Linked DNA regions of Homo sapiens: all the other regions are linked to region 1. Evidence: fine-mapped expression QTL. A gene starts in region 1. Each other region holds a variant in brackets. All regions are shown on one strand. Distances are from middle to middle.

Evidence for each region. PIP is the estimated chance that this variant, and not a neighbour inherited with it, causes the effect. A credible set is the group of variants that fine-mapping cannot tell apart.
Region 2: its variant is the best candidate, but not a certain one, in a credible set for the expression of LNPK in anterior cingulate cortex (GTEx, PIP 0.51).
Region 3: its variant is the best candidate, but not a certain one, in a credible set for the expression of LNPK in aorta (GTEx, PIP 0.62).
Region 4: its variant is the best candidate, but not a certain one, in a credible set for the expression of LNPK in CD4 T cells (Kasela 2017, PIP 0.72).
Region 5: its variant is the best candidate, but not a certain one, in a credible set for the expression of LNPK in whole blood (INTERVAL, PIP 0.88).
Region 6: its variant is the best candidate, but not a certain one, in a credible set for the expression of LNPK in T cells (TOPMed, PIP 0.73).
Region 7: its variant is the best candidate, but not a certain one, in a credible set for the expression of LNPK in monocytes (Quach 2016, PIP 0.52).

The regions. Positions count from the first base shown.
Region 1 is chr2:176,000,136-176,004,206 of GRCh38, forward strand. LNPK (lunapark, ER junction formation factor) reads right to left here and starts at 2,132. Exons shown (of 13, transcript NM_030650.3): 1 at 2,025-2,132. RefSeq lists an enhancer at 2,326-2,545.
Region 2 is chr2:175,919,573-175,923,643 of GRCh38, forward strand. No RefSeq gene overlaps it. Among named protein-coding and RNA genes, the nearest start is that of LNPK, 81 kb to the right of the region's middle. The variant C/T (reference allele first, on the strand shown) is at 2,153.
Region 3 is chr2:175,868,058-175,872,128 of GRCh38, forward strand. No RefSeq gene overlaps it. Among named protein-coding and RNA genes, the nearest start is that of LNPK, 130 kb to the right of the region's middle. The variant A/C (reference allele first, on the strand shown) is at 1,813.
Region 4 is chr2:175,913,810-175,917,880 of GRCh38, forward strand. No RefSeq gene overlaps it. Among named protein-coding and RNA genes, the nearest start is that of LNPK, 86 kb to the right of the region's middle. The variant T/C (reference allele first, on the strand shown) is at 1,713.
Region 5 is chr2:175,969,546-175,973,616 of GRCh38, forward strand. It overlaps LNPK (lunapark, ER junction formation factor), which reads right to left. Exons shown (of 13, transcript NM_030650.3): 6 at 1,219-1,259. Among named protein-coding and RNA genes, the nearest start is that of LNPK, 31 kb to the right of the region's middle. The variant A/G (reference allele first, on the strand shown) is at 2,114.
Region 6 is chr2:176,021,739-176,025,809 of GRCh38, forward strand. No RefSeq gene overlaps it. Among named protein-coding and RNA genes, the nearest start is that of LNPK, 22 kb to the left of the region's middle. The variant A/G (reference allele first, on the strand shown) is at 2,294.
Region 7 is chr2:175,979,220-175,983,290 of GRCh38, forward strand. LNPK (lunapark, ER junction formation factor) reads right to left here. Exons shown (of 13, transcript NM_030650.3): 5 at 591-649. Among named protein-coding and RNA genes, the nearest start is that of LNPK, 21 kb to the right of the region's middle. The variant C/CA (reference allele first, on the strand shown) is at 1,685.

The sequences.
Region 1 (4,071 bases):
CAGGTTTGGGTGTCAGAATTTTAAATCTTGGGAAATGTTTTTCTTAAATTTTCACCTCACTCCAAGACACATTAAAATAATGCAATAAAATAGATCTGGATTCAAAATATGGCTCAACCACATACTAGCTATGCAATCTTGAGCAGATTACTTAAACTCTGCACGCCTCAGTTATTGCATTTGCAAAATGGTAAAAATATCTACACTTCATAGAATTGTTGTATAAATTAAATGAAATTATGTATCATTTGGCACAGTGTCCGACACATAGTAGTAACTGCTTAATTGTAGCCATTATTATTACCAGAAAACACATGTATTTATATGAAACACATTTCTAACTTCTTATAAAGAAAGCACCTATTTCATAATTCTAAAATTGGAAAATTATATTAGTTTGTATTTTTACAAAAATAGATTGCTCTCATTTTCTCTAGTATAAGAAATAGAGCAAAAAATTCTGTAGACTCTGCCATTAAATAACCTTGTAGGTCTTTGAAGGAAACAGCAAAGGAAGTTCTATGTTTATCAAATTCCAAAGTTAAGTATAAGCTATTTAATCACCATCAACAGTACCTCCATAACATATTATACTATACAATTGAAGAGTAAAGGTGATTTATTCTAGAATTCTAACTTTCAAATGTCCTAACTGAAAAGACAATTCTGAAATAGCCCAAGCCACATTTATTGCTCCTCAAAAAGAATTTTAATGAAAAGTACACCTCTATTATATATTAAGCACTCTTAATATATAATGATTAGTGCTTGCTTTCATGGTAAGTCAATTTTCATCTGAACTAAATACCACCAAAAAATTACTATTTGATTATAAATGTTTCTATGTGAAGTCATATATTTTTAATAGCCATATAACTTCTCCTTTTCTTGTATTTTCTTGTTTATATAACATATAAACACTATATAAGTTTACTAACATCATTACTGAGCTGATCTCAATAGATAACAGACAACCTTAAAATTCTAATTTAAACGCACCACTCCTGTTTAAGAAAATGTGTTAAAAGTCAACTTGGTCTTCTGGGGGCTGCTGAGGAAAAGAAATGAGCATTCCCTGCCAGTTTGAACATATTCCTGAAACCAAGCTTACTCACACCCACCAAACCGCTGTTGAATAGAGTCAATTTTGTCAATGCTGACACCCAGGCCATAAAGAAAGGAGGAAACAGTAGACACCGAGCAACACACACCGGAGGCCAACTGGGAAAAGCAGAACACGGAAAACTCAGTGATTCACGGGTCTTGCTTAGTACTGTGAAAGCACCATCAGCAAAGCTGAGTTGACCAATTTCAACTCTTTCTCAATCCGTAAACTATGAACTGACGGAATTTAGATTTGTTTTTCTCCTCCTACCACGCCTCTGATACAATGCACCTTCGCCCTTCCCCTCCACCCCACAGCCCACCATCCCTGAAATAAGGACAATGGTTGGAGAGTCTCTTCTCTAAGTAGCACGTACTCCACGCCCACACGCTAGAGCCCGGCAGCATGACACTGACAGTTTTCAGTCCCTTCTGGTCTTTCTAACTCTTGGAGCCTCCGCACAACTCAGAAAGAGAAGCGGAGAGAACGCTCAAAGCGGACAGCTGAGCGTAGGAAATGCTAGTTTGGGACCTTCTGACCTCTTTGCCCCACCTGTGTCGAGATAAGCTCGACACAAGTGGGCCAAAGAGCTGGGGCTCAAGCCAGTCACCACCCGGAATCTCCTAGAACCGAGCTGGAGAAACTACCAGCCCTAGAGGGGAAACAAGGGTTTCAAGACTCCAGCGCCACCACTGCCAGTGTGCTGGGAAATCCAGGGAACAAGGCGGCGAGCCTGGGTCTGCGCGGACCACCGCGCAGCCTGACTAGCAGCCGCCGCAGAGCTCTAGGCCACTTGGCAGGAGGCGGGGGCACCAAGGAGAGGCAAGCGGGGAACCCGCAGCTTATTTCCCAGGGGCACAGCTCAGCATGCCTCCCCGCTGCAGAGCCCTCCCAACTGCCCTCGCCTTGAGCGTTCTACCTGCAAGAAGCGGGCGCAGCCCGGCCCGGGCGTCCACCCCCGCCAGTCTCGGCCGCCACCGCCCAGCCTGCCTCCAGAGCAGGCAGCAGCCGCCACTGACAGAGAGACAAGCCGGGCCAACTCCTTCCCATGAAACCCCGCGCTCCAGCCGCTCGCCAATTGGCGCCGCGGTCGGCGCGCGCCGCTCCCCCGTCACGTGACCGTACCCTGGGCGGGTAGTTGTTGGGGCGGGTCGGCCGGGAGGTTAGGATCTTGTGTTTGTGGCCTCCGCAGCCAGCTTAGGCTGCTCGGTGTCGTGTCGCAGTTATGTACTGCCATTTATTATGACTCTTAGAATATAGTTATTTCTTACTCTTCCGCTGCCTCCTTTGCTTTTAAAGCCTGTTCTGCCAAGTCTCGCTGGAGAAGGAAACCCCTGAAACTGGTCCTGGTGGTCTCAGACCGCCGCGCGAGCGAAGAGTGGGGAGGACAAAGGTTGGGGAGTTGAGAAGGATGGAGATGGGTGCATCTGGAAGGGAGTCCGTCCTGAGGAGTCCCCCATCAGCTGTCAGCCAGCCAGCAGCAAAGCAAATTAAGACTACACAGCTCCGAAGAAGCCAGTTCCCAACCAAGCCAGTGGAGAAAAGTCAGCCCGGTCCCCAGGAGTGCTTGAGGCTCTGTCACTCTTGGACGTCAAAAAGGGTCATTTGATGACTGGACGCTTACCTCACCGGTGTGAGGTAAGCTTCAAACGCCGTATCATGTTGCTTTAAAACCTGCGGGTAACAGCATAAGCTGAGTTTTCTATCTTAGAACTCTTAACCCCAAGAACACTCTTCACAGGCCCTGATAGGTGGACCCACAAAAAAACCACTCAGGCTATATTTGACTCGGATTTGAAACGCTGCCGAAACGGTATTAAGTGTCCTCCTCAACTGGAAAAGACAAATAACAAATGATGCCTGAATGAGAAAAAGACTAGACGTGCACACAGTAATGTGTGAGCAGGGAAACTTCAGCGAAGGTTTTTATCATGCTTTACCCCTTTTACATGCTTTACCCCATGTGCAAACATTTTTCATGGGTTTTTTTCTATTTTTTATTTATTTTTATTCTATTTTTTTATTTATACACAAAAAAGTTTCAATGATTTTTTAAAGAGTAATAGTTTTAATATGTTACATTTAAACTTTGACGATGCAAACAGGTTGTCAAGAGAAGCAACTGAGCATTGTTTGGTTGGTAAGAAAATTTATTATACTAGAAGCTACCGCATAATTCACTGTGCAATTTGCTTGCCCTAATTGCCTAAATATTTAGTTACAGTTCTGTACACTTGCAAGGATGAGGGGAAGGGAACTGAAGTTTAGCGTGTCACTGTGGATCAGGCACTTTCCAAATGTAGAAGAAAATGAACAGAAACATTTCACCTGTTTTGATGTGGAAATTTAACCGTTTTGTTTTTCAACCTTTGCTGTTGCAAAGTATTAAAGTCCTGTGCAGTTTTGCAAATATATCTCACCGCAGAAAGATCTCCTTTCCTAAGAAGACTGGGAAGAACGGCTTTCCACTTGCCAGTAATGTGTCCTCTGGTTTCAATTGAGCCATCAGTGTCTGTACTCCAGCCTGGGCTACCAAGCGATACCCCACCTCTGAAAAAAGGGTAGCAAGGGGACAGAGAAGAGCTGTCTGGATACACGAGATTCCAAAAACCTAATCCTGAGATAAAATTCCCTAGGGAATTGCTCTACCGAGAGTAGAGATTTGACCTGGAAAGAGAAGGGAGAGAAGTATTTAATCATTAACTCTTTTAATCCTCCCAACAACCTTTTTAGTATCATTTTTCAAATGAGGAAACTGAAATGTAGAAAGATTATGTACACTGTTGAAGGTAACACTAAGCCACTGCCTCCTTCATATCAAGAATAGTTGTTCATCGAGCAAATAAAGTGAGGGAAAGACATTACAAGCAGAGAAATCAACATACACACTATTGTGGCTGGACTTCAGGCTACAGGGTGGTTCCAAATATTTATTGACAAGGCCCTGTGTTACGTGCTGAGGATAC
Region 2 (4,071 bases), 81 kb before region 1:
ATACACAGCACTACTTTGCCAACACACAATTTAGTAGTCTTGTGCCATCCCGACCTGAAATAATTGTTGGACATTCACTCTGGCTTCAAACTTTTGCTTACAATTGTTTGCTAGGTAGATAAATTGGTCTTATCAGAATGTACTAAAACATGAACAGCTGTGGTTTTCTCCTTTGATGGTTCAGGTGCAGGGAGAAACAGTGGAAAGGAAAAAATCCCCTCCTTTTTCTATAGTGATTGTGGTTATTCTGAAATAAATAAAACATAATTTAATTTCATCAAGCCCAACTACAGGAGATTGCCTTATTGAAGAGAAGATCATACAAACATACAAAAAGAATCTGGTCTTCAAAAAAGAAAACACTGTGCTGAAAAGGACCAGGAAGAACCTATAACATCTACCCAAAACATGTCTCAAGCATATCAATTTTCTTTCAGTCTGTACTTTATTTCACACAATTCACAGCATCCCATTCTGAAAATTCATGTATTATTTGGCTATGTGGATATTCTTAATTGAGAATACAAGTCCGTTCCACATATATTTTCTTTTTTGTTGCTGCTAAAAAAGATATTTTTAAAAAGCAAACCACTGTAATTTAACAAGAGCCAACTCATGGCAGCTATGCAAAGCCTTTAGAATTCTTGCTAAAGACAGTAAGACACAAGTAGCCAGTTTCATTTTGGACGCAGGGTGGGGAACATCACACACTGAGGCCTGTCATGGGGTGGGGGAAGGGGGAGGGATAGCATTAGGAGATATACCTAATGCAAATGACGAGTTAACTGGTACAGCACACCAGCATGGCACATGTATACACATGTAACAAACCTGCACATTGTGCACACGTACCCTAGAACTTAAATTAAAAAAAAAAAAAAAGACAATGAGGCTGGTTGTGGTGGCTCACACCTATAATCCCAACACTTTGGGAGGCCGAGGTGGGAGGATCACCTGAGGTCAGCAGTTCAAGACAAGCCTGACCAACATGGTAAAGCCCCGTCTCTACTAAAAACACAAAAATTAGCTGGGCATGGTGGCATGCACCTGTAGTCCCAGCTACTCGGGAGGCTGAGGCAGGAGAATCGCTTGAACCCAGGAGGCGGAGGTTGCAGTGAGCCGAGATCACACCATTGCATTCCAGCCTGGGCAACAAGAGCCAAACTCCATCTCAGAAAGAAAAAAAAAGACAATGAATAACTTGGTTAGCTTTAATTCATAAATTATACCACAACTAGAGCAAGTTTCAATTACACTTGCCATGTACAGTAACACATTTCCTTTTAATGCTATTTATTTATTCATTTTTGAGATGGAGTCTCGCTCTGTCACCCAGGCCGGAGTGCGGCGGCACGATCTTGGCTCAGTGCAACCTCTGCCTCTGGAATTCAAGCAATTCTTCTGCCTCAGCCTCCCGAGTAGCTGGGACTACAGGCGTACACAGCCACACCTGGCTAATTTTTTGTATTTTAGTAAAGTCAGGGTTTCACCATGTTGTCCAGGCTGGTCTCGAACTCCTGAGCTCAGGCAATCCGCCTGCCTCGGCCTCCCAAAGTGCTAGGATTACAGGCATGAGCCACCACGCCCGGCCTATTTTATTTTTTTGAGACAGAGTCTCACTCTGTCGCCTGGGCTGGAGTGCAGTGTTGCAATCTCGGCTCACTGCAACCTCTGCCTCCAGGGTTCAAGCAGTTCTCCTCTCAGCCTCTGGAGTAGCTGGGATTATAGGGTTCCCCACCCTAATTTTTGTATTTTTAGTAGAGACGGGGTTTCACCATGTTGGCCAGCCTAGTCTGGAACTCCTGACCTCAGGTAATGTGCCCGCCTCAGTTTCCCAAAGTACTAGGATTATGGGTGTGAGCCACCGCACCCAGCCCCTTTTAATACTTTTAGATGCATGTATCTGACTTTAAGGTCTGAATTCCTATGGTCTATATACTGAAAGAGAAAATACTCTTACATTATTTTGCATGTTGTATGTATGTACATGTGAGTGTGTCCAGGCTCCACTAGACACAGATGTCAAAAAAGCAGCAACTTTATCCAGACCATTTCTAACTTAATGCCAGTTATAACACTAAATGAGTCAGAAATCGGATAATGAATAAAAATCAACATAAAAACAAAAAATATTTTTAAATACCTCATTCTA[C/T]AGATATTTATGGGAGCAGGGAGTGAGGGGTATTGGGATCTTCAACAATGGGAACTCATTAAACGAACACAAAATATTTTATGTACAAGTTAGAAACCTTATCCAAATCATGGATTCATGTGAATGAGGGATGAGCTCCTGTACTGTAATCCCCCTGAACACCTGTGTTGTGAGGTCATCTCCAGTTCAATTCATTCATGATGAGAGCTTTTCCTATGTCAGGCATTGAGAGTACAAAACACATGAATCCCCCCCACCCTCAATGTGCTCAGTTTCCCTATTCTTATGTCTTGAGCTAGTCCTTCTCACTTTCTAGCTCCAATTCCTGGATTTGTAAGAGTTTCAAGAGAAGCAGCACACCAACCATTGATGCTGAGAAAGTCAGATCTATCAGTTATATGAATCCACTCAACATACCTGTAACAGGCACAGGTTTTGTTTTTATTTCCTGTTATTCTGTTTGAGGACAGCAAAAGTGAGAAAGTAAAAATTAAGGAACATGGCCTATCTTCAGTGTTAGGTCAAATGAGGGAGGTAGACAGAACAAATAACAAGAGGTCAGGAGACTACAAGTTACATAAAGTATATAAAGTGCAATCAACAAAAAAGCAAGTAACTGCTTAGAAAAGTTGAGGATGATGTCACTCAAAAGATTACAGATAATGCTGGGTCTTGAAGAAGTGAGAGTTTAAAAAGAATAGATCATATGAGAGTGCATGGCATCTCTCAGATGTATGAAATACTTATCTATGGCCGGAGTATAAAGGAGAGTACTGGGAAATAGGCTGAAAAGGTGATTTTTGATTCTGAAGGGCTTCCTTGCAAGTTGCCTACGGAATTGCAATATACAAGTGAGTCGCAGAATATTTTTAAAGATGTGTGTTTTAGAAAGCTCCAAGAGCAATGTGGACAATGGATCAAAAAAAGACAGAGGAACCAATTGGAGTTTGCCTAAATTGTGAAGAACAAGTTATCTGGCCCTTTCCCTACTCAATAGTTCAAACAATTTAAGATTTGCAAAATTCCCCACACTACAAAAATCTGCACTAAGTATATTTCCCATTCTGTGTGGTCTGTTTGTGCATACTACCTATTCAACAGATATTGTCTTCCATGTGTTGAACACTGGGAATAAAATGATGAGCAACAACAGATATGGTCCTGCCTTCAAGAAGTTCATAGTTTGATATGGGAGATAACATTAGAAGGAATTTCAAGGAAGGGTGTTGAATAGAGTGTCTGGTAAGTCTTAGGTTAAGACTGCCCTGAAGAAGTAACAATTATCAGAAAAATATGAGGAACCAAAAAGAGCATTAATCTATTTTTTACATCTACCAAAGGAGAGGATTCATAGGTAGTAAAAAGAGCATGGACTTAAAGATCCTAGGTTCAGATTCCATTTTCAATGCCCATAAACTAGTCTTGGGGAATGAATTTAATCTGTTTGATAGGATTCTATCTCCTCACACGGTTGTTGTGAGAACTGTGTGAAAGTACTTAGCACATAGTGCCTGACCGAGAGAAGGTATTCAAACAATGTACATTTAATTTCCCACTTTCTTCACCCTTCAAAATATTTATTTTCATGAAAATAAATGATTTTTCCCAGTTGTCCTAAATCAAGTGCCAGGGATCTGGTAAAAGTCTTTGGCAGCTGAAAATCTGGCCTGTTCTCACAGAATCCTGGACTGAAAACTTAAAAGTCTAATTTACGAGGGAGACTTTTGAGAACATTTTTTAATCTTTCCAGAGTACTTCCAACTTCCATTAATTCTGCTGCCAAACAAAAAGGAAGGTAGAAATACTTAAAAAAAATAGAGAAAATGCATAAAGCAGAAAATCTAGGTTTTAAAAAGCATCAAATAATATAGAACTATATAACTGGATGGTGTTTCCTTCTCCTAAAGTCCATTAATAGT
Region 3 (4,071 bases), 130 kb before region 1:
TTCAGAGCTGTTATACCACAAAGGTACTGCTTATTGAATTGGACCTGGGCTGTAATTCTTCCTTCCCATCTGAGAAACAAGGCTGCTGTGATAAACTTCTCATCAACTCCAGAGACCATTGTTGTTATCATTTGCCTACTACATGCATAAATCTTTTATTACAAAAGATAATTATTATCTGTGCCACTTACTTGATAGTCTTGTTAAATGAGTAGCTTGCTCAATAAGTATGATGTATTCAATGGGGAAAGAAATCACTCCTGAAAGGAAGAGGGGCTTGAGCTGGCAGTTGTGGGATGGGTGGAAGTTGAATATATGCAGAGAAGGAAAGAGAGTGGGAGAGGGTCAGAAGAGGATAGGGGAGTGGGGGACAGCACGTGTCTTCAGCAGAGGGTCTGTGTGAGGTAGATGTTAGCCACCTCCTTGGGATAGGGCATGTTCGAATTGGAAGCAGGCCTAGGGTATAGTCAACATTAGCCCAGACTAGGTCAAAATGACAAGTCCTTTGAAGGGGCAGCTAGGGTCAAACAATCTCAACTTAGGGCAATGACTGACACAGAATGTTGTGGGCATCAGAGCAGTGTAGGTTGAGGTGGCTGAAATCAGGACAAGTATAGAAGTAGCTTATTTTTTGTTTTTCTACTCTGCAAAATGAAGAGTCTGGCACTTGTCTTTTAAAATGCACATTAACAATAAAATTGAAATAACATATTCTATCAGATTGGCAGAAATTATTTTTAGAATATTATCTTGGTCCATTAGGGCTGCAATTACAAAATACCATAAACTGGACAATAGAAATTTATTTCTCACAGTGCTGAAAGCTAGAAAGTCCAAGATCAAGACACTGAATCGGTGTCTGGGGAGGGCCCGTTTCTTGGTTCATAGATGGCGCCATCTTCCTGCACCCACACTTGGTGGAAAGAGAAAGTTCGCCCTCTGGGTCTCTTTACAAGGGCACTAATCCCAATCATGAGATCATGATTTCATCTCCTCCTGGAGGCTTGGGTGTTAGGATTTCAACATATGAATTTTGACGGGGACACAAATGCTCAGACTATAGCAAATATTTAATGCAAGGAAGGGTACTGAAAGACAGGCATTCTTATATTCACTGGTGGGGGTGCATGCCGGAACAAACTTTCTGCAAACAGTCAAAATTAATTCATTTACTTAATTATTTGTTGAGCATTTACTATTTAGGAAGCACAGGTCTTTGGAAACATCTTGCCTTTCAGTCACCCTCCTTCTCCCCAGTGTTCTCCTGTTGCCCTCTGGCTTCCCAGAGCATCCCATCACTGATGCTACAATCTGAATATTGCAGAGCCCTCCTGATTGAGATTAGTGCCCTTATGAAAGAGACCACGAAGAGGTAGCTAGCCCCTCCCACCAGTAAGGAAAGAGCCTCACAAGACACTATATCTGCTGGTGCCTTGATCTTGGACTTCACAGCCTGCAGAACTATGAGAAACAAATGTTTGTTGTTTATAGGCCATCCAGTTTATGACAGTTTGTTACAGCAGCCTAACCAGACTAAAACACCTAACCAGACCCATCTTCTTTAAACAATGATCCAAGATTCAGACCTATCCCTCCACCTTGTTTCTCTTTTAAAACATATCTGCTTGGTATCCCATCCCACTAGGGCCCTGTACCAGCTAGCTCACCCCAGTAAAGTACAGTGAGTGACATCAAACATAAATTTAATTTGAAAAAATTCGACTTAAATTGTACCCTCCAGAATAAAAATAATTTTTTTTTGTATAACCTGAACCCTGAATGCGAGTCAAATGCTTCATCTGGTGCTCACCC[A/C]AAAACAGCAATCTATTCCAACACTGAGGAAAAGCTGTGTTAGACATTACATACACACAAAACCATGTGTAGTCGAATTTCCTGGCAATTTGATGGTAATTTTGACTACATTGAATAGTCTCCCAACTCACTAATAGAATCTGACCCTGTCTCTAAGATGCTTCTCTAACTCAGGCTGAAGAGCTAATGGTTAATAATAATGTGTTTCTTAAAGAGATATTTGTGTTGTAAAGGAGCACATTTGAAGGAGTGATGCTTTTTCCAGGAGGAATAAGCCTGTTGGAGATGCAATATTTATTTGGGTGCAGGGGGAAGGGAGGGAGCTGCCTCCTGCTTGTACAGCAGGCCTTGAATTCTGTCTTTTTCAGATTGGTTAGAAGAGCCAGGCTGGTCCAAAAAAGTGGTTCACAGTGTCTTGGATGCCCTTTCATGTACTGCACATGCTTCTGGAATAAATACTGACATCCATGTATGGCTGGGGGAGTAAAATCAACATTCACTAAGCAGGTAACAGGAACATAGTTGTATAAGTTACTCCATCATATACCTCACTGAATCCTCACAATTACTACGTGAGGTAGCTATTGTAGCTATTTTTATAGATGAGGAAACTGATGCTCACAGTACTGAGTTGTACATTAGTAAAGCAAAGATTTAAACTCCAGTCTGACTGACCACTGAGGCCAACTACAATGTAACCTTGCTCCTACTAACTTGCCTAAGGACAGCTGATAACCACTTTGAGCCTTTTGATTTAGACTGGAATGTTCCCAAGTTCCTTTGTCATGCTTTTAGTACAGATTAACTAATAACTCCTTACATCTTTGTATCATTTAGCAATTTGTAAAGCACTTTTAGCTATATTACCCCTTTCTGTCAAAACTTCATAAAGCTACAGGGCAAATATTATCACCCTCAGTTTTATAAATAAAGCAGTTGATATAACCCCAGGAAGCCTAGCAAAAAAGAAAAAGAAAAAAGAAAGAAATTGAGGACCAGAGAGTTGAGAACTGACTAAGGTCACATGGTTAGGAAAAGGTGGGCAATTTTGTGGCTAGGAATGATGGGACATTAACTCTGGCACACTCTGCAATGCCACATGGACCAAGCTTAGAATTTCATTACATCAACCGGCCACACCTGTAGAAGAGCCATCAGAAATGGATCTACCTGGCCTGGCGCAGTGGCTCAGCATTTCGAAAGGCCGAGGCGGGTGGATCACTTGAGGTCAGGAGTTCAAGACCAACCTGACCAACACGGTGAAACCCCGTCTCTACTAAAAACATATATATATATATATATTCAAAATTAGCCGGGTGTGGTGTCAAGAGCCTGTAATCTCAGCTACCTGGGAGGCTGACACAGGAGAATCACTTGAACCTGGGAGGCACAGGTTGCAGTGAGCTGAGATCGTGCTATTGCACTCCAGTCTGAGCAACAAGAGTGAAACTCCATCTCAAAAAAGAAAAGAAAAGAAATGGGTCTACCTGTGCACCAAATGCAGAGGTAGCAAACAGGAGGCCAAGATCGGCTTTGAGGAGTCTGTGTCTTTTTCCTTAGGAAACTATTTCTGGCTCATGCTGAACAGATTAGAACATTCCAAACTCATACCAGGACCTGAGTCAGAATCCAAAATATTTCTTTTCAATTTCCATAATGTTTTTCTCCTTTCTAAAATTGTTCACTTAATTAAAGATCCGCCTGTTCCTATCCCTTTCTCAGTTACCTTCCAAAGTACAAAAATTACATCAGACAAAAATTTATGTGCTTGTTCTCCAAACTGCAACGTGCTTGCATCACATCCCTTCCCAATTTTAGATTTCTCCAGTATATCTGTATCTGTAAAAGCTTTATTCATGGTTAAGGAGAAATTAGATGGTATTTGGCTAGAGATGCAAGAATATACAAATTCCATCCTCTCCACAGAGGCCCCTAGACAGCAAACACCCAAGGAGTAATAGTAGGAATGAAACAAAATATCACCTTCTTGTTAGCCAGATGGGAATATCTTAGATGAATCCTATTTCCCCTACACTACTGTGGACCATAGGGAAATCCCACTGGCCATTATCCTATATTTATGTTCCAGGAGTAATAGTGACAACCTTGGATTCCATCCCTGGAAATTTTCCCTCTTGTCAATCTGCCAACACATACCAAATCATATCTTCAGAGGCCACGAAAACTGAAATTCAACATAAAATGGGAATGAGATGCGGTTACCACAGAGCTACCATTATGCTCTGTCCTTCTAGGCCA
Region 4 (4,071 bases), 86 kb before region 1:
TAGCAGAGCTCAAGCGCTGTGCTGGGAGATCCACTGCTCTCTTCAGAGTCAACAGGCAGGAACATTTAAGTTGGCTGAAGCTGCGCCCAGAGCCACCCCTTCCCCCAGGTGCTCTGTCCCAGGGAGATGGGAGGTTTATCTATAAGCCCCTGACTGGGGCTGCTGCCTTTCTTTCAGAGATGCCCTGTCTAGAGAGGAGGAATCTAGAGAGGCAGTCTGGCTACAGTGGCTTTGCGGCACTGCAGTGGGCTTTGCCCAGTCCGAACTTCCTGGTGGCTTTGTTTACACTGTGAAGGGAAAACAACCTACTCAAGCCTCAGTAATGGTGGACGCCCCTCCCCCCACCAAGCTGGAGAGTCCCAGGTGGACTTCAGACTGCTGTGCTGGCAGCGAAAATTTCAAGCCAGTGGATCTGAGCTTGCTGAGCTCCATGTGGGTGTGATCCGCTGAGCAAGACAACTTGGCTCTCTGGCTTTGGCCGTTTCCAGGGGAGTGAACGGTTCTGTCTTGCTGGTGTTCCAGGTGCCACTGGGGTATGAAAAAAAAAACTCCTGCAGCTAGCTCCATGTCTGCCCAAACAGCCACCCAGTTTTGTGCTTGAAGCCCAGGGCCCTGGTGGTGTAGGCACCTGAGGGAATCTCCTGGTCTGTGGGTTGTGAAGACCATGGGAAAAGCATAGTATCTGGGCCAGATAGCACCATCCCTCACAGAAGGGTCCCTCACAGCTTCCCTTGTCTAGGGGAGGGAGTTCCCTGACCCCTTGCGCTTCCTGGGTGAGGCAATGCCCCACCCTGCTTCTGCTCACCCTCTGTAGGCTGTACCCACTATCTAACCAGTCCCAATGAGATGAACGGGGTACCTCAGTTGAAGATGCAGAAATCACCTGCCTTCTGCGTTGGTCTTGCTGGGAGCTGCAGACCGGAGCTGTTCCTATTTGGACATCTTGCCTGGGAATCCTGGTTCTTAATAATAGTAAAATTTCTAATAGTGCTTGGCAAAATCAAGCCAACCTAAGGAATGCTCATTTTACCAAAGGCATATTTCAGGATATTCGTCATTTCTTCAAAATATTGAATAAAAAAACCACTATGGAACATTTTTACAGGATATTTTAATCACTTTAAAGTATACAAGGTAAAGAGGAGTGTTGCAGATAAAAAGGCAACTTCAATAAATGGACAAGAATGGAAGTTGTGTGATACATGAAATGTTTATGGACTGAGTAATCAGATCAAGCAGTGTTCAAATCCTGCCTCTGCAGCTTACTAAGTGACCTTAGATGAGTTACTGAACTTAGAACTTCAGCTTTCATACTTATAAGACGGAGATGAAAATCATCTATTTCAAAGAATTCTTCTAAGGACCAAATGACACTGTATATAAACTGTCTTGCTGGCTATATATTATGCATTCGGTTAATTATAGTTTCTCCCATATGAAACCAGCACATCAGAGTGGCCTTCACTTATACTGCTGTACATAGACAGTTAAAATAACTACCCCTTAGGTAAATATTTCTATAAAATCTTACATATGCTATAAATTTACCTAAATTCTAATCTTTTAAATAGTGAAATTCATTCTTACCTCTATTATTAATACAAATTATCACAATTCTCGATTTGTGGAGCTTGAATTAGATCTTGCTATAATTGCTGTCACAAGACAATTCTAGACCAAACTGCTCTGACATGCATTACAGCAAACTGTAT[T/C]GTGATCATTTAAAAACGTATATCAGAACCTAGGTTTAGGAAGTTATTTTAATATCCATAAGAAGCAGTCTCGATATTAACTTAGTTGTGAAATTTCCAAAGAAATATATTAAAGGAAGATCAAAGATTATGGTGCCATATTGAGTATAACAAAGCAAGTACTTAATAGAAGACAAAATCCATTTCTCTTAATTAAAGGAATTAATGAGCTGTGTGTGTGTCTATATATGTGCCTATAAAGGGAAGGGGAGGAAATACGTAAATGCATGCAGGGAGGTTTCATACTACTCTACAAGCTGAGTGTGCTTTAAGCTGCTGCAAGAAAAAGAAATCTGAGCTTCTCAGATTCCTTCCTTCCCAACTTTTAAACCCATATCATTCATAAAGCATTCATTCCTCTTTTCTACTTCCAGAGTAACAGAGGTCCCTATATTTTTACTGCTCAAATAAACTTTTTCTTCTTCTCAGGCTTTGATTCTCTCTCCCTTTTGAAGCTCAACGTAAGTGAACTCTTTCCTGAGAGACTTTGCACATATGAAAATGCTCTGAATTTGGACACAACTATTAACATGAATTTAAACATTTTTCTGTAATAAAATGATTTGTTGTAGGTCATTATTTTAGATTTTAAACTTTTTTACTTTAAAAATTAGAATTGTTGAAAGTAATATACATCTTTGATATTAAATTTAGAAAATACAGAGAAAAGGGTAAGGAAAAAAAGTAACCCATATCCTACAACCAAAATATAATCAGTTAAAAGATGACTGTATTTCTTTCCAGTTCTTTATATATACTTGTGTGTATGTGTTCTTGCTTGTAAGAGCAGACTATATATACTGTGTAACTTTATATCCACTTTTCTCTTAATATTAAATCATGGGCATTTTCTCACATTATTAAAACTTCAAAATATATACTTTTTTTTTTTTTTTGAGATGGACTCTCACTGTGTCACCAGGCTAGAGTGCAATGGCACGATCTTGGCTCACTGCAACCTCTGCCTTCCAGGTTCAAGCGATTCCCCTGCCTCAGCTTCCTGAGTAGCTGGGATTACAGGTGCACACCACCATGCCTGGCTAATTTTTGTATTTTTAGTACAGAAGGGGTTTCACCATGTTGGTCAGGCTGGTTTCGAACTCCTGACCTCGTGATCCGTCCTCCTCGGCCTCCCAAAGGGCTGGGATTACAGGCGTGAGCCACTGTGCCCAGCCTAAAACTTTGAAATATTGTAAATGCATTATTTGAACACACTCTCCCACTTCTGAACCTTCTGATCACCTATTTTTTCCACTGTCATTAATAATTCTGTCATGAACCTCATTTTACCATGCAACAGGCTTTGGCCTACAGAATCCAAGCTCACACTCAAAATACATTCTGAGGAAGAAATTATAAAGAGGAGTTACTAGGGAAAGGAGTGAGACTAGGCATCCAAGCCCCCAGCCTGCCTGAGTATGAGGGAAAAAAACACATTACCATTTGACAGCTGCTCTGATGCCTGTAAAGAGTAAGTTAAAGGGTTCCAATGTCTTTCCCATGGCCAGAGGTTCACATGGCTTCAGATGATACCAAGTGGTCTGTACTTGATTCCAAACTTTAATAATGGTAGTTCATGTGAGCAGAGCTACAGGGAGCAAGTATGATCCCACACACAAAGCACCTCACTCAGACAGTTTTGGTTTAAGAATACAGCTGTGTACATATCCATTTATAAATGTGTAAGCTAAAAGGACTAAAGACTCACTGGAAACCCAAGAGAAACAATTAATGTGTTACAATGATAGATTGCAGTGAAATAGCTTTTTAAAACTTTTATCATTGTGCTTTAGATATCCAATATTCGAAACAAAGAGAGAGAAAAATAGGCAGACATTCATTTAAAAAAAGAACTAATTTTATGACTTCGTTGCATAAGCAAGAGCTTTCTGGGAGGGGGAGACAAAGGGACAATTAAAGAACAAGCTGGGGTGGGGAGGGGTAGAAATACAGTCTTTACAATATCAAACCCAGTATGATATCTTATGATTCCTTATAATACTCCCTTCTTACTTTCAAAATTCACCTTTACTAAGTGACAAGTTACTAACCTGACAAGTTTTAAGCTATTCTTATATTTGAAAGCGATCCTTGATAAAGCTATCAGAAGTCTAAAAATATTCAAGACCCATGCACTGAATTTATTTGTATATTAATTTTGCCGCTAGTGTGGCATGGCTGCTTTTTCTCCTGACAGTATGGCTTCTGGCCATAGGAATATTTTGAAGAATTCTTTAATGCCTGAAGAAAGGGTAGTTGAGATCCAATTGATTTTTTTTTAACCTAATCAATCCAAATATTACAGTAATGATAATATCTT
Region 5 (4,071 bases), 31 kb before region 1:
TCTTTTCTACTTTAACTAATATTTCTCCATTTTGGTATAAGCAGGACTTGTCTCTGATCACCAGTACCAGCTCTTCTTTTTATCTCATCAGCAAGTCAAACCAATCATATCACAACTTCTAAATCACTGACACCATCAGTATTTCCTCACTTTGAATTTCTGGCTGTTCCATAATGTGCAGAATAGCAGAAACATAATAATAAGATATTTCTGTGTTTGGCAATTTAGGACCACCAAAATTGCCAATGCAGTTTTGATAAATACCTCACAGGACACCCAATAAGGAGCAAACAAAGCTAAGGAATCCTTTCAAAATTAAAGTTCTCTTACTTTTCAGGTACTTAAAGCCCTTAAAACCAGTATCTATTATCATCAATTCACAGAATAATTTTTAACATTAGTCTTAACCTTCACAATATTGGTTTCTTAATTATTACTTGTTACATACTAGACTAAAATATATTGAATTGATCATTTGTACCTGATTAAATTTTATTAAATACATTTCTATACAACATAATACTATCAGCAGTTATCATTTTCACACTTCAAAAATAATCATTAAAAAATTAGTAGCTCTATGTCAAACACCAACTTCAATTCACTTATTACAGACTACTATGTATCAATATCTAGAGCGCCTTCTGTCTTACTCTTGGTCCTCTTTCCAACACATCTGAAGGGATGCATCAACTAGCCCCACAATAGATATCCATGTGATCAGAGTTACTGATAGAAAGTGGAAAACTCTGAAGAAAACAATTATCTCTCTCTCTCTCCCATCTCTTCTTCAGTATTTTCATGTTGAATTGCTCTCTTACAACCGATCTTCTTGATTCCCTCTCTTTCTTGGTGTCAAGAAAACCTGAGAACTGACACGTGGAGATATTTTGTCCTTTTTTATTTAGCTCTAATAAACAATCTGGTACCCACATTTTTACCCTCTCTGCCTCATTTAGGCCTCCAATATGACTCATTTACTTACTTCTCAGCTTCCAACTGATACAGATTCTCAGAATCTCAAAAGTCCTTCTAAACTACTTTTTCCTGTCAATCATTATTAACTAGCAAAAATATTCACAATTTCACTTCATCATTAAAATGCTATCTAAAAGCATATTTCTTCCTTGGAGAGTTATTAACTTCCAACACATAAACATTAATTATTCAGTTCTTATTAGTTTAATATAAATTAATTTTAAATAAAAGTTAACTTACTATTTTTTTCCTCTGGGATTTTAAATCATCCAATGCTTCATCTAGAAAGCAAGATTTAAATCAAAGATTAAGATATTTAGATATAAGAAAAAATCACGCCAAATGACACACGGTAGCAAACACAAGAAAACTTTCTTATTTTAGGATTTTTCAAAATTTAACTGATGTGTAGAGACAAAAATTATCTCCATCTTCACCCACATATAGTTCATATTTTTGCCTGTATTATATATTATAGGCCATTGAGGTGAAAAATTGACTTTACATAGTATAAAGCACCTTTCTAAATTGAAATATATACAAATACTTTTTAATGTGTTCAGAAACATTACTTTCTACTATTTCTTTTTCCTTTCAACACCTCACCCACATTAATTTACAAAATTAGTATCAAATCTCTTTTTATACACTGGTAATAAAAATGTTCTCTTTGTTTATAAGGAAATAAATACATATTTTACTTAGTCAAGCCTGAAGATATTAAGCACGACTTTTTAAAAAACCTAGAAAATCTACCTTATTGCATCTGAGAAGGGACATGGAAAAAAATACTAATAACTTTCCAAAATTAAACATTTCTAAGATTTGCCCGCTTATATAGGTTGGCATGGTGGAACAGAAAGAATCACCTCAGAGGATATCTTTTATGAATGTCAATGTTTGATTTACAAATTATTTAAGTTTCTAGTTTTTCTCTAGAAATATTTAACTAATACAGATTGAAACACTATTCCCTAAGGAAAGCAGAACTTATGGCTTGAATATTATCAAATGAAATGTAAATAACTGTTCTTAATACTTAATTAAATTTATAAATAAAATTATTACTTCTTCACTGAAATTCTAGGTAACAAATACCTGAATACCCAACTCAAAGTACATCATTTATGTAAAA[A/G]TTCAAGGAAACACAAACATATAAAAAGATGATTTTACTATAAAACTTTTTTCAAAATAGATTAAGCAGTCTTTAATGTGATAGCTAACTTGTTACTAAAAGCAGAGGAAATCTGCTAACATCTTCAAAGAGAATAGTAATTTTTTGTTAGATAAGACCAAGCCAAACATCTGTACTTTAATCCAAGGGTTAGCAAACTTATTCTGTAAAGGAAAAAGTAAGTATTTTGGGCTTTATGGGCCAAAAAGCAAAATCAAGTCTGTATTTTTTTGTTTTTTGAGACAGGGTATTGCTCTGTCACCCAGGCTGGAGTGCAGTGGCATGATCTCGGCTCACTGCAGCCTCTGCCTCCAGAGTTCAAGCAATTCTTATACCTCAGTCTCCCAAGCTGGAATTACAGGCGTGTACCACCACACCAAGCTAATTTTTGTATTTTTAGTACGGACAGGGTTTCTCCATGTTGGCCAGGATGGTCTTGAACTCCTGACCTCAGGTTATCCACCTGCCTTGGCCTCCCAAAGTGCTAGATTACAGGCATGAGCCACTGAGCCCAGCCTAAGAAATACAAAAGAAATACAAAATTTCCACAAACTTTATAGACTAAATTCAAATACAGGTTGAGTATCTCTTATCTGAAATGCTTGGTGCTAGAAGTGTTTCAGATTTCAATTTTTTTTTTAATTTTGGAATATCTGCAGAATACACCCCAGCTGAGCATCTCAAATCCAAAAATCCAAAATCCAAAATGCTCCAAGGACCATTTCCTTTGAGTATCATGTTGGCATTCAAAAAATTTTGGATTTAGGGGGATTTCAGATTTTGAATTTTCAGATTTGGGATGTTCAACCTATATAATAATTGAGTTCAATTTTTTGTAATATAAGTCTACCAGGGAAAAGAATGTAATACTTTCAGGGGTGGATAACATTTCACTTAATTGAGGTTCAAAGCTAAGTGTTCTCTATCATCAAAACTGATTGCAAATGATAATCCATTAATGCTGATCTGTAATGAGATTTTACATATTTGATTTTTTAATGTCTTTTCACAGAGGTAGTTACTGCCAAATACTGATATCAATCCACAGGCATAGGATTTTAATTGAGCATATTCACTAGTTTGAAAGGCATTTATAAAATTCTATTAGATTCTTCTCTTGGCATTTGCCTTTTAGAGTATTATTACATTGGAAGTTAATCACCTCCAATCAAAGACTGAAGCTCTTCAATTATACAGTGAAATGGATTTAGAAACACAGAAATTTCCTTTGCACTTGCCTTGAGGTCTGAAAAATTCTACTGGAACTATAATTTCACCTCGGATAATGCATCTGCTACAAATTTGTGTGGGAATGGCAATCCTGCTTCTTGTTTCCATTTTTATAGCACTTTTAAAAAAAATTACTTGTCATTACAATGTTGTTTTCTAAATGACTTCACCACATTATAGGTTTTGCATATATACATTGTTTTGCCTTGCAATCTTAGGTTGGATTAATTAAGAACCATTATCAAGGCTGTAGCAAAAGCTAATTTCCAAAGCCAGTCAGTATTCAAACACAGTGACTGAAGATGGTCCTTCTCATTTGAAGTATTTCAATCTAGGTTTTGAGCTCAAAATATGACAATAAAACTTTGCCATTGCTAAGCCATCAAACTGCTGTGAGGCAAGTCAAGATAGCTTCTATTCATGATTGAAATTCACATAACTGACAATGGTTAAGTCCATGAGAGCAATGAAGTTCCCTTTGGCCCTACAAAATGACAAATTCAAGTATGTTCTGTGAAGTACCTGTTGTTGAATAATACAATGAATAACCATAGACTGTAAACACCTTACAGTTTCAAAAGTTTTGTACAATTTGTACAACTAAGTCTTTTTCTGTTACATATTTTTACCAGCAGTAGTTACAGTACATCTTAGCAGATTCCACTTCAGGTTGTAGTAAATTGCTGTTT
Region 6 (4,071 bases), 22 kb after region 1:
CATTGAGATTGTCTTATTCAAATTTTACTCTCTCAGAGCTCTGTAGACTTTTTTGTGGCTCCGATCACAGTTTAAATTGTACATTTATTTTTATGATCATTTAGTTAATGTCTGTCTTCATCACTCAGCTGTGGATCTACGAGTGCTGTTTTTGATCACCAGCAGTACATACAGTGCCTGACACATAGTAGGTATTCAAAAAGAATTTGTTGGCTGAGAAAAATTAATGAATATCTAAATATAAAAATACATATATTAATTCTCAAAATAATCTTTACCAAGTATGTGGTATAAGTATTATTACTACTCTGTAAATTATAGAAAATGGATAATACAAATGACTCTTGTCCATAGAAATGCAAATGATTTTATCCAGTATAACGCAATTGATTATTGCTATCAGGATAGATTAATTCTGCATCAATTTTCAGCATTCCTTATTGCCCCTATGTATGTGGTTCTTTGAATTCTTTTTTTAACTACTTATAACATCTTACTGGTTCCCTCATTAATTATGCATTAAAAAGGATTTTTGATATGTGCTAGTTTTATGTTTGTATGACAGTCATGATGTTACCTTCTTTTAGAAAATAACATTTAACAGTTTAACAATACCTTAATACCATCTTAAATAGTGCTAATAGGTTACTGTATGTACACAAAAGTATATTGAGAATGAACTACATGAAGAGTACTGTGCTATGCCTGAACATAATGAACAACAATATAGTGATGGAGTCTGGTATATAAACCAATGGCAGGAACTGAATATCTTTATCACACTTCTTACTAGAATTTAGGCCAGATGTGGTGGCTCATGCCTGTAACCCCAGCACTGTGGGGGGGCTAAGGTGGGAGGATGGGAGGATCACTTGAGCCCAGGAGTTTGAGACCAGCCTGGGCAACAAAGTAAGATCCTGTCTCTACAAAAAATCAAAATACAAAAAATAAAAAAATTAGCCAGGCATGGTGCACACGCCTGTGGTTCCAGCTAACAAGAGGCTGAGGCAGGAGGATTGCTTGAGCCCTGGAAGTTGAGGCTACAGTGAGCCATGTTTGTGCCCCTGCACTCCAGCCTGGGAGACAGAGCAAGACACTGTATCAAAAAAAAAAAAGAATCTAGTAAAGCTGCAAAGAGATTAGTAAAAGAATTATGCATACATATTTTGCTTTTCATCATTATTGTTACTTCATACAACCACAAGTTACTAGCACTGCACTGTATCAATGGTACCCCGTGCCAGTTCTCTGGGATTTGCATGTCAGAGAAATATTTTATCTAAACCATCCATGTGAATATTTCAAAATATTCCAGTTTGCGGTTAAATTCATTCTTTTATTTCATTTTTTCTTTTTCCTTTTGTTGTTTTTTGTTCCATTTTTCGTACTTTATAAATGAATAATTACTTAAAATTGGAAAAAGAGATATCTCAAGCATTGAAATTTCAACTCCATACATGTTTCAAGGAGTGCAAAAGGTTATACTTGAGGGGGTACTAAAATTACTTAAGATTTTTTTCAAACGAATGCCAAAAACTGTATCTGCTAATAAGTTTTGCCCAGCTTGGAAACCAAACTCACCCACAAAGTATGAGAATGCCAGATATACGACAATAAATATTTTTGGCATAGTTTCAAAGCTACATAATGCCAGACATAGACATGTAAAAGTAATGGCAAGAACTACAAAGATTATAAAAGAAATAAAGTCACAGTTCGTAATTCATATGATTATGTTCAATAGCAGGCTTAGACGGCTATTCACATAATAAGATCCACATGTAAAAGCATCAGCTTATTTTACTTGGTAAAAGATAACAAATATTAAAATGGCTTTTAAAAGTAAAATTTTGTTGAGAGCTTGTAAATGCATTTTTGCAAGCTCAAGGAGAATAGCTGAAATTGTTTTTTTGTTTCTATTTAGATTTCCAACTTCTGCTTCCCTTTTCGTCACACTCAGAAAAGTTAAGTAAAAAATGAAAGAAAATACAATCTCAAAGATCAAAACAGCTTTTAAATATTGTCACTATAATCTGTGTATTAAAACTGGAGTGTAGGGGGAAACACCATTCCCCCAAAATTAAATAAATTCTGCATTGCATTTAGAGAAAGGATGAGGGAAATACAGCTGTCAGATGTTCAAACCTTGATTTCACTATTGGGCACAGATTATGGTGCTCAAAGCCAAAGTGAATAAAGCCAAAGCAATTCCCTTGTATCCTCCACTGCAAGGTGAGTATATAAAGCTGGTTTTTAAGAGCAGAGATTCTAGCAATATTTTTTGCTCCTAGGA[A/G]TATTTTATTTTAGACCCAAGAAAATCAAATTAAATAAAGTTTGTGATGGGTTTGATTTTCAAAGATAAAAGAAACACATCTTTGTGTTTTCTGTCTGCTTAATTTATGGATTAGAAGTGGTCAACCATCAGGGTGGGCTAATGAAAAGCAAGACTGAGGGGAAAAGCTAGTGGAAGAAGAATGGAAGAAACTGTAGAATCTGAGATAAACTGTCAGTGCCTCAGGCAAGATAAACCAGAACACCACAGTGCCAAGAACAGCTAGCCTGGGGTTCAGTTCTTAGTCACAAGCAATACAGTGAATTGCGGTTCATTTTTTTAAAAGAAATTTGACTAACATAGAAAACAATAATTCAGTAGGTGAACTGAAAATAATCACATTGTAAGATTTTATATTAAATACAGTGAAATATTTTTGTCCGTACTATAGGTCTATATTGTATTGAATTTTTATTCTGCTGTGAAAATATAACAAAAGCTTTTGTTCCTTTTCAACCCAATGAAAATTTATAATGTAGGATAATTACATTGCATCTCTTATCTATCAGCTGTTATAAAATAAAACAATAATGTTTTGCAAGCACATATTTTTTTCCTTAGTTCAAACTTTGCATGAAATTTTTAAGTAGCCCTCTAGCAAAGCACTGTTTGTGTTGAATACATTTGTAATGCATTCATGGTGATATACACTTTTCTTAGATATTAGTGAAAATTTTTTGTTACAAAAAGACACTTTTCGATTGAGTTCTGTCCCTATTTACACATGGATCCTTTTAATGGATGTTGAGAGTCTTGATTTAGAACTTTTAATAGGCTCGTTTACATTTTGCAAATCTCTACCTTTGAAATAAAAAAAAAAAAAAAAAATGCAGTGATCCACCCATCTGCAGACAATTAAGACCAGCAGCCAAGTATAAAAGGGTGGAGAACTTTTAATGGGTGTTTATAGATTGGAAGCACCGACCCCCTTTTGAATGGAAGAGGCCTAAGAAGAAATAGTAAGTGTTAAGGATAACCATGAAATTCATTTAACCCCCCAAGCAGAAGATCTGTTATCAAAGAATTTGCAGGATTCTACACCTTCCAACTTAAGGTTCTCAGCTTAAAGTACTTTAAAAAGAAATATCTTATTAGAAGTGTTTTGATTATAATTTCTTAGCTGCTTGAAGGTCAAAACGCAAGCCAGCAGGAAGACCAATAGTAAGGTATGTGATATAAAAACAAATATTTCCATAAAATCTTTGCCCTAGCAAAAAGAGAAATTCTTAGTAGGTTCAAGGTGGGAATTTAGGGAATAGTATTTTTTTACAGGAAATACTGGTTAGGCGTTTTATATAGGGGGTTCTGCGTTTGTGAAGGGATAATTTGCTCTAAAATATGTGGGCAACCAGCCTAAATTCTCTAATTGAGTAGTTTGCTCATAACCCGAGGCCATTAGGTGAATGTAAACTGTTACAGGCTTAGTAAGAAAATAGTCCCATTAGGATTTTTTCTATTTGTATGTGGTTGCAGGTTAAAGTAACTGTTTCCAAAATCATGGATTAATGAAAAGCTCTTTTTTTCTGAGTTTGCAAATACCAGCTTTGAAATGCTCAAACTCAAATTAAGCCAAGGGTTCTTTTTTTTTTAACAGTTAAAAAATCTTTTACAAGATCAAGTCTCAACTATAAGTTCCATTGTAAGTTATCTAAAAATAAAAATTAGAGATGTTTAATTAAATGGTTGTTAATAATAAATGAAAAACAGCCATATGTTCTTTGAATCTGTCATTCAGGTAT
Region 7 (4,071 bases), 21 kb before region 1:
TTCCATAAAGATTAATTTAACAAATATAAATTCTCTTTATTTAAAAATGTTTGTTTTGGTCGGGCACCATTGCTCACGCCTGTAATCCTAGCACTTTGGGAGGCAGAGGCAGGCGGATTGCCTGAGCTCAGGAGTTCGAGACCAGCCTGGGAAACATGGTGAAACCCTGTCTCTATAAAAATACAAAAAATTAGCTGGAAGTGGTGGCACGCACCTATAATCCCAGCTACTCTGGAGGCTGAGGCACAAGAATCACTTGACCTGGGAGGCGGAGGTTGCAGTGAGCCGAGATCGTGCCACTGCACTCCTGCCTGGGCGACAGGCTCTTCCTATGCCCCTGACTCTGTCTCAAAAAAAAAAAAAAAGTTTGTTTTGTGTAAAAAAAAATCTAAATGAACAAGATGGAAATAACACAAATTAAAAACAGAACCATCTTGATCATTTATAACCTTTCTCATGCTTTATAATAAACAACTCTTCAATACTTAACACATTATCATTCCAATATCATATTTTACAACCTGTCTTACCAGCACATTCTAAAATAGGTATTTTAAAAAATATTTATTAAAAATTGGAATTAAACTTACTATTTCTTTCTGTTCTCTTGGAAAAGAAGAAAATAATTACTGTTCTTATGCTCCAGATGCTAAAAGGGAAGCAAAATTCAGAAACAAAAAACATCATTAGAAAAAGCGAATTAGAAGCCATGTAAAATGAAAACATATATTTCCAATTAGAGTTAGGTACATTGTTTCCCTTTATATACAGAAAACTAAAAAGCGTTTATTTCTGCCAGAGAACATCAGAACCTGTGCTTTCAAAGGAGGAGTTCTCAACCTAAAGTCCACAGACCTTCTGATGATCCCCTTAAATTACAAAATTACCTTTGTGTGCATAAGTGCATTTCTCTGGAAAGACCATTGCTTTCATCAGCCTGAAAGGAATCTATGCACCCCGCAAAAGATTGAGAATATTAGAATCCCTTACTAAGTAAGCATCAATTCCAAAAACTTAATTTGTCTATTCCCACACATTAAGGAAAAATGCTTTTACAAATGTAAGAGCATTATACAAATGTAAGTTGCCACTCCTTCCCTATTATTTAACAATAGAGGGACAGTCTCTACTCTAAGAGATTAAGCTACCTGAAGGAAAAATAAACAAAAACCTTACCTTCAAATAAATACTTGATGAGTAAAATTAGCTAAATATCTCCTCCCAAAGATTTTATAAGGATAATTCTTTAGGCCTTGCATTAGTAAGACATCAAATGAATTGAAAGAATTAAAAGAAACTAAATGAATAATCCTCATCACAAACTTGTCAGGGTCATCTCCTAAATTCAATGTAAACATAGCAAAATACCTCTTCTCCATAGAACCTGGCAGAAATAAGTACATAAGGCTGGGCACGGTGGCTCACGCCTGTAATCCCAGCACTTTGGGAGGCCAAGGCAGGTGGATCTCCTGAGGTCAGGAGTTTGAGACCAGCCTGGCCAACATGGTGAAACCCCATCTCTACTGAACATACAAAAACTAGCCAGGCGTGATGGCACACGCCTGTAGTCCCAGCTACTTGGGAGGCTGAGGCAGGAGAATCACTTGAACCCAGGAGGCAGAGGTTGCAGTGAGCCAAGATCATGCCACTGCACTCCAGCCTAGGCGGCAGAGAAAGACTGTCC[C/CA]AAAAAAAAAAAAAAAAAGAAAGAAAGAAGTATATAAACATTATTCATCATCTTAAAACATACATTGTATCTCTTGTAAAAAAAAATTTGATTGTACTGGAAATAAATTCAGAATATAAGTATGAAAATTAGTTCTTCACTCTGAAATACAGCATTTGCTATTTTGGGGAGTTAACCTGCAAGTAGTCACCAGTGATCCCTGTCTCTTGGTATTCACACCATTGTGTAGTCCTCTCTCACCAGTGTTGGTCTGTGCCACCAACAGCATGGCAGAAGTGATAGTGTATCACTTCAAGATTAAGTTATAAAGGACTGCAGCTTCCATTTTGGGCCTCCTCTTTCACTTGTCTTTCTCTCTCCTGGATTACAAGCTCTGTGAGAAGACAGCTGTCATGATATGAGAACAGTCAAAGAAGTCTATGAAAAGGTCCATGCAGTGAGGAAGAAAGGTCTGTGGTAAACACTCAGCAAAGAACTGATGCCTGCTAACAGCCACCTGTGTGAATTTAGGAGTAGATTAGGGAAAAATCAGCCAAAGTGAGTAGGATCACACCAGATATCTTATTGGGATTTGAATTCAGAATGCATTTTGGTGGTGGCAAGACAATTAGCTTTGGCATGTAAATTCCTGGATTATACAAAGAAAAAGGAAACTAAACATAGGCTTGCCAAAAAACAGCCTATATGAAAAGAAAAAGACCTCAAGAAAAAAGCAAAAGGAACACAAGAACAGAATGAAGAAAGTCAGGGGAATTGCAAATGCCTACCGAGCAGTGAGCTGGAGATTGGATAACAGCAGAGGGAGTAAAGATCTGCAATGACTTTATCTACAGTGATTGTATGGATTTAGTTAAGCCTTGAGATGACTGTGGCCCCTACCAACAGCTTAACTGCAATTTACCTAAGAACAAAAGATCCTGAGATAGAACTACCCAGCTAAGCAGCTCTTAACATTCCTGCCCCTCAAAAGCTGAGACATAATAAACATCTGTTGTTTTAAGCTACTAAGTTTTGGGGCAATCTGTTACACAGGAATAGATAATACACTTTTTTTTAATATTGTGATGATTTATTTTTGTGACATGAAAACACCAAATAACTAGCACCAGATTCCTATTTGGCATTTGGACAATTACCTAAAAGTACAAAAAACACCAGGCTTTGTCCTTACCAAGGGAAGGGAGATAAGAGAATATAGGTTAAGCATAATGCCCATAACCCTCAAGGATTCCGCAATAATAAAAAAGTCTCGTATCACTTCTCCAGTGCAAACCCACTGAAATAGTAGCAGGCTGGAAGGAGGACTTTTAAAAAGCATACAGAGAAAGAAAACGGGGAAAAAAAGATGGAATTGCAGAGATAGTGGCTAGAATTCTGTAGGAAATGTATAAATTTTCTTAAATGAGTAGATACTTTTTAAAAAGCATATATAATTGTCAGTGTAAATACTACAAAAATTGAAATATACTCTCTTCAAAATAAAACTCACTAAATCCTCTCTGTGGACAATAAATTCCTCTGGTTTTTATCAGAATTCCTCCTAGATAACATAAGCTATCAAACAACAGACATTTCCATATGTCAAGTCTTCAAGACTTCAAAAGGTAAAACAGAATTTATTTTTCTTTAGGGCTAAATTAAATGAAATTCTTTGGTATTTTTTGTTATTTTTGTAGAGACAGGATCTCACCATGTTGCCCAGACTGGTCTTGAACTCCTGGCCTCAAGTGATTCTCCTGCCTCTGCCTCCCAAAGCACTGGGATTACAGGCATAAACCATCATGCCTAGCCCTTTTATATTTTTAAATAAAATTTAGAAAAAGAACTAAAGTACTTCAGGACTCTGTTTTAGTTATCCCAACAAAGGTTTTGCTCTCCCAATAATTAAAAATAATGTATTAAAATATAGCAACATATTTTGTGAAGATATTGACGATATTAAGGATATTATTACTAACCTCTAGTTAGAGAATAGTGGCATAAGATCCACTTCCCCCTTCTCTTCATAAAAATAATCCAAACAACAAGGAGAATAAAAATAAAACTGCAAACTACTTCTCTGGTAAAACAGAGATATAACTAAAACTCAACCATCAGAATATGTGGAGGCACTCTCAAAAGCAATGGAGATTATTACACAGGGGCTCCAAAAAGTGGAAGCAAAACAAGAAAACTGCATATTTCACAAAGAGGTAATAAGGTAAACTTTTCCAAGTGTAAAACTTAAAACCCATGTTTGTAACAATGAGAACAAGATGCACAGCTACAGGCAGACACTCCTCAGTTTGGTTCCAATAAAAAAAGAGAGAAGGCAGGAATTAAAAAGAAATTATTCAGAAGTGCACTATTTACAAAGAGTATTCTGTTCCTATGGCAAGGGGGTTGGG